Linked DNA regions of Homo sapiens: region 1 is linked to region 2. Evidence: fine-mapped expression QTL. A gene starts in region 2. The other region holds a variant in brackets. All regions are shown on one strand. Distances are from middle to middle. Region 1 overlaps PATL1 (PAT1 homolog 1, processing body mRNA decay factor). Region 2 holds the start of STX3 (syntaxin 3).

Evidence for each region. PIP is the estimated chance that this variant, and not a neighbour inherited with it, causes the effect. A credible set is the group of variants that fine-mapping cannot tell apart.
Region 1: its variant is the best candidate, but not a certain one, in a credible set for the expression of STX3 in whole blood (INTERVAL, PIP 0.79).

The regions. Positions count from the first base shown.
Region 1 is chr11:59,661,459-59,664,375 of GRCh38, reverse strand. The region is part of intron 2 of PATL1 (PAT1 homolog 1, processing body mRNA decay factor); the gene reads left to right. Among named protein-coding and RNA genes, the nearest start is that of PATL1, 6.1 kb to the left of the region's middle. The variant A/G (reference allele first, on the strand shown) is at 1,708.
Region 2 is chr11:59,753,746-59,756,662 of GRCh38, reverse strand. It overlaps STX3 (syntaxin 3), which reads right to left and starts at 1,287. Exons shown (of 11, transcript NM_004177.5): 1 at 1,028-1,287. The coding sequence starts at 1,057. RefSeq lists a silencer at 1,087-1,346 and enhancers at 2,217-2,376, 2,313-2,607, 2,373-2,667, 2,357-2,857.

The DNA of each region.
Region 1 (2,917 bases), 92 kb after region 2:
GGAAGAGTCATACCTTCTCATTGACTTCCAGAGTGCTATGGACAGTCTTTTTTTCCTGAGTTTCTATTTTTTCTCATAAGATGGGAATAATATTGCCTTAAAAGGATGTTAGAGTGTCCGGAACGGTATTTTATATGATGGGAAAGAAGAAAAGTGTACACGTGCTGAAAAAGCCATTAGGTTTACACAGTAAAAGAACAGGTAGTACAAAGTTAAGGCAATTAAATAGCATATGATTAGCCCACTTTGTACCTTAGGGCCAAAGGGTGATTAGAAAGGATTTTTTGGCCAAGAAAGTTTATAATAATATAGAGAAAAGATTTCCAAAGGTGAGCCCTTTCCCTTGAGAGTGTAATGTACTGGAATTGTAAAGTGAAGATCTTAATTCCTCATAACAGCTTGGTGTAAATACTATAAAAAGAAAATTGTTTTCCAAGTCAACCTGTGACTTCTTTGATACTCCTCTGCAGGTTGATATAAAGCTGGTATAGAGAGTTTAAATCAAGAGGTGAAATGTCAGACCTTTGACATTTGTTTTGATTTTATGATTTTTAATTCATATAGCGGGCATCTGGAATAATACCTGCTATTACAGTAGACATTTTAGGTCACTGGCTACAAATGGTCACCTTTCCTTAAGAAACTAGTCTTCTGCATGAAAAAATGTTTGCATCATCTTAGAGCAATAAATAGTGTTGCAGTAATCCCAACTCCTTCTCTAAAAATAAAAGCTTACACTTAACATGGTGCTTATTATGTGCTAGGCACCATTCTAAATATTTTACATATATTGTTAATCCTCATAGCAGCCTTGTGAGATAGGTACTATTATTATCCTCATTTTAACAAATGAGGAAGAGTGACGGGTTAAGTAACTATAGACACAATTACTGTAAACTACTAGTTATGTTTAATAGTTTTGGGGGAGTCTTTGGAAATCTCCTGCCTCCACTTGGAAGGAATCACCCTCCTTCCTACCTCCCTTTTATTGATAGCTACTATAGTCTTTAGAGATTGAGATTGCCTTAAAATTAAATCACTTCTTCCTTTTTATTTTGTTTTCATTCAAAACTCCCTGAGACAGGCTTCAGGGGTTATTACAAGTATAAGTTTATAGAAGCAGCCAGGAATTCAGTAACCCGTATCAGAGTATAGGTTAGTTCGTTATTACGGATAATCTCTTTCCCTTCATTTGTCTGTTATTCTTTTGCCTACCTTTTATCATTTTGACCAATAATGGACTCAGGTCAAGCACTGGCATATCTAAGTAACTATATTTTTAGGTCATTTGAAAAAGATACAGGGTGAAATATTGTTTTATAGTAAGGGCACAATATCTCTAAAATACTACTTCAGATAATTTTTTACAAGAGTAAGAAAAATCTAAAATGATGATGATGGTATTTTATGGCATAGATTCCTCTGGTTACATGTTTGAAAATGTAACAATCAATTCACCAGAGATCTATTCTCACAGAATATGGCGACTTAACCAATATTTTTAAAATATTATTATTAAGGGGAAATAGATTATCCATATTTGATAGGATTTGGTAAAGTTAGCAAGCATGAATACTGGAAGTAGTGATAGAAAAGCATGCAAATTAGAACTCTACTGCATTAGAACAAATCCACTAACAAATTAACTTCTTAAATTTGGGAAGTAAATGTTTTTACAAATCCCTCAATTCAGGATGATAGATTCCC[A/G]CTCTTGTGGCATTGCTAAGTTAGTAAAGTTGCAAAAAACAATTTATCCTGTCCCAGCTTACTGTTCCTTACCAAGGATGACACAAATATGAATGTCACATTTGGTTTTTAATTACATTATTCTTTAAATATTTTCTTTCATATGACTAGTCATTTAAATTAACACTGTAATTTTCATTTAAAGTGGATTTTTCCATTTTTTGGAGCACATCAGGATAGGCTTATCAGAGACCATCATCATAAAATGGCTACCTTAAATTCTTTTCTGTAAGATGACAGTTTAGAGGAAGAGTGCCACCTGACTAGTCACTCAGGTAAGAGGAAACTATTGGGTGGGAAAGAAAATACCACATAATTATAAAGAAGACCCATGTCCCGGAGGCTTAAGTAAGGATATTTTTATAGCTTTTGCCCACAGTCTTTATCCCAGTGATGGCACAGTGATCCACAACTTAAGGAATCCCTTACCACAACTAATACATAAATCAACCAAACTAGGCAGTGGGTCCTATGATACCAAAATTATATATTTGAAAGTCCCACTTCCCTCACTCTTTGGATCACTAGTATTATGTGATACATCGTTGTATGATTAAAAATTACATATATATAGCAAATTTTAACTGTTAATGTAATCTGATTCTAAAAGGAAATTAGTTTATTTAAATAGTCACATAAAATGCTAAGATATGTATGATGTTATTACAGTATTAATTATTATATTGGAAAATTGTAAATAATCCAAATGTTTACCAGTAGGGGATAAATTACATTATAGTTTAGCAATAAAATGCAATCTTATGTAGGTATTAAAAAGAATGAGTTACTATCAGTAGTTATGCCTGTGTGCATGCATGAAAAGATGTCCAAGACATATTGCTTAAATAAAAAGAAACAAGTTAACTTTATAAACTTAACACAGCTTAAAACTGTTTAAAACTTAACACAGCTGTGGAATTGTGGGGAACTTTCACTTAAGTTACATGTGTTTATGGTGTTTGAATTTTTTAAACATGTATTTTCTCTGAAAGCAGAAAAAAGAAAGTCTCTGTTTCTGTGTTGGTTATAACCTGTTATCCCTGTCTGTTGAATTTTATAAAACATATAAAGGATGTAACTAAAAAAAGAATACCATATAACATATACAAAATAATACTTTTTGTGGGTTAGAAAGTAATGCATATAGAGATGAGGTAAAGGAAGAAATAAA
Region 2 (2,917 bases):
GCTTCCCAAACTGTAATGTGCCCATGAATCACCTGGGGAAATGGATGAATAATTAGATTCTGATTCTGCGGGGCTAGACTCAGGCCTAAGCTGCTACACTTGTAACAAGCTCCAAAGTAGATGGACTAAACTCTTGAGTGTCAAGGGCTAGATTTTAATTCTATTAAGGTAGAACCTGTGCCACTGAATCTCCAAGGCTTAGCACTGGACCTCCCCATAGAATACACTCAATAATTATGTACTGAATGAGTCAATGAATATCTGGCTTAAAACCCTATGCGTTAACCCTTTTCTGTATCAAGTTCCATTGTATCAGCTGATCCTCCCAACAAATTCCTAGGGTATGATCATTCCCATTTGATAGATAAGGAAACAGAGACTCACAGTAAGTAACCTAAGGCTTTACAGCTTTTGCGCAGCCAAGGCTGGAGGTAGTCTACCTTCAGATCCTTTGACCTAACCACAGCTGTTCCAAAAGATACGGCGGGGGAGGGGGGGACAATGACACCCGGGGATAACAATTACAGACCACCGGTTGGAGAGGAGCTGACCCATCCCAGCATGTGACCGGCTCACAGCTCCAGAGGTCACCAGAGAGCTCTGAGCTGCTCCCTGGGGGAAGGGGCAGCCAGGCCTGTAGCACCTCAGGAGAGAAACAGGAAAGGGAGAAGGAGGCTGGTCCTGGGCATAGTGCCAGGCAGCAGTGGGCAGGTGGTGAAGGGACCCCTGACCTCCCGGGCCCAAGCACCCGCTTCGGGAACCAGCTCTGGACAGACACTGTCCAGCTTGCGGGGTGGGAGAGTTAGAGGCGTTCAGGAAAATCATTGCCTAGCGATGAATCACCGGGCACATGACCCCGCAGGGGAGGGGAGGGGAGGGTGCGGAACCGGCGCGGGAAGCGGTGGGGGCTTGGGGAGGGCAAGCCTCCGGCTCGGGCCCCCCTCCAGCCTCGACTTGGGGAGCAAAGGGAAGCCCCTCTCCCATGCAGCACCCCTCCTGGCAGCACCCCGCCTGCGGCGAAACTCACGGCCTTCAGCTGCTCCAGACGGTCCTTCATCCTGAAGCCCAGGCGCCCGGAGGCAGGTAGCGCGTCCCAGGTGAGCGCGTCCCAGGTGAGCGCTTCCCAGGTGAGCTGCCGGAAGCGGCGGCCGGGCCCGCCGGGGCGAAGGAGCTGGAGGCGCAGGCGGCGGCGGGCGGCGGCCGCTAGCTAGGAGGAGCGTCCGAGGCCACGGGAGCCTCCGCCGCGCAGCCCCCTCCGCCCCCACCGGCGCCTCGCGCTCCAAATCCGGCTCCCGGGCCGGCGCCGGCGCAGCGCTGATCCGCCCTGGACCCGCCCCTACCTGGCCGCGCCCCTCGCTCCTTCTTAAAGGGCCCGCGTCCCGCCACCGCCCGGCCGCCCGGGGCGTCTCCAAAGCCCCCTTCCCTAACCCGAGAGCCCTCCAGACACGCGTGGAGTCCGGGGAGAGGCCCCTGCACCGGCGGATCCTGCCGCAGGGCCGAGGAAGAGCAAGAGCGACTGTCTGGCTGCGGTCATTCGCTGTCTGTGCCGGGCTCCTCGCTAGGATCCAGTTCTTAGCCGACTCCTTGCTAGGCGGGGACAAGCTCCCGAAAACAAATAAGACAATGTGATGTGGGCTACATTGGGTGGCAGTCGAGTGTTCTAAAAATATCCCGCCAGGAGGAAGGCATTCCGAGTAGCGGGATCCCGCGCAGCCTCAGGGCTGCTGGCAGTGAAAGTGGGGGGATGGAGGAGGTGTCCAGAGGAAAGACCTGGAGATCTGGAGATACAGGACGGTCAGGGTGGTCAGAGAATTTGGATCTTTTGCTTGTTGGAAATCGGGACCGCTCCGAGAAACGTAAGCAGCTCGATGTTGTTAGTGCCAGTGGAGACACTTGGCACTCACAATTTGCAGACGTTTGGGAAAGCATCGTTTCTCAAGAGGACCCCGTTCCCGTGTCTGTAAATCAGAGATGGTACCCACTTCGTAGTTCGCTGTGAAGCCTGTGAGCGAGGAGGGGCTTTAAAATACAGAACTTTGCACTGGAGCGCTCCCCGTCCTCGCAGCCTGCTTGGTGTGCAGGTGGTTCCCAGGCGGCTTCTGCTTCCGAAAAGCAGATCGTCCCTTTATCTCGAGTCTTCTCCCCGCCTCTCCCTCTTCTCCCTACCCTATTTGTCTTCTTGGGAACAAATGGCACATTCATCAGAGTGGAGATCCATAAACGGGACTGGCGAGCCGAAGATTTAATTCTGAAGAATAGGATCTGCTCTGTGCTTTCAGGTTAAAAAGCTGTAAATATCTTTGTAATTCTAGCAGTACTTTGCCCTCTTCTGCCATCTGAACGCGTGCTCCCTGCTGACCTCATCGGCTCCCATAAAGATACGGTGCGTATGGCAGAGGTCGGGCTTTGAGCCGGCCCCGCGGGTCTCGGCCGTAGTTCTCTCTCGCGTCCGGCACACTTCCTTCTGCCCGCTGTGCTCGCTGGGCAGGTTGTCCCCGCCTTAGTACCAGGAGGGCTTCCGCGCCCCCTGGTGGTCATACTAGGAAAGGCGAGTAGATCAGAAATACACACTGTCCCACCTCCTTCCCCTAACACATTTTTGGGGAGTTTGGGGGTTGTTTGTTTGTTTGTTTGTTTGTTTGTTTGTTTTTTAGACAGAGTCTCATTCTGTTGCGCAAGTTGAGTGCAGTGGCGCGATCACCGCTCTCTGCAGCCTCGATCCCCTGGGCCCAACCCATCCTCCCATCTCAGCCTCCCAAGTAGCTGGGATTACAGGCGTGCGCCACTACGCCCGGCTAATTTTTGTGTTTTTTTCGTAGAGATAGGGTTTCGCCATGTTGCCCAGGCTGGTCTGGAACTCCTGTATTCAAGCCATCCGCCCGCCTCGGCCTCTCGAAGGGCTGGGATTACAGGCGTG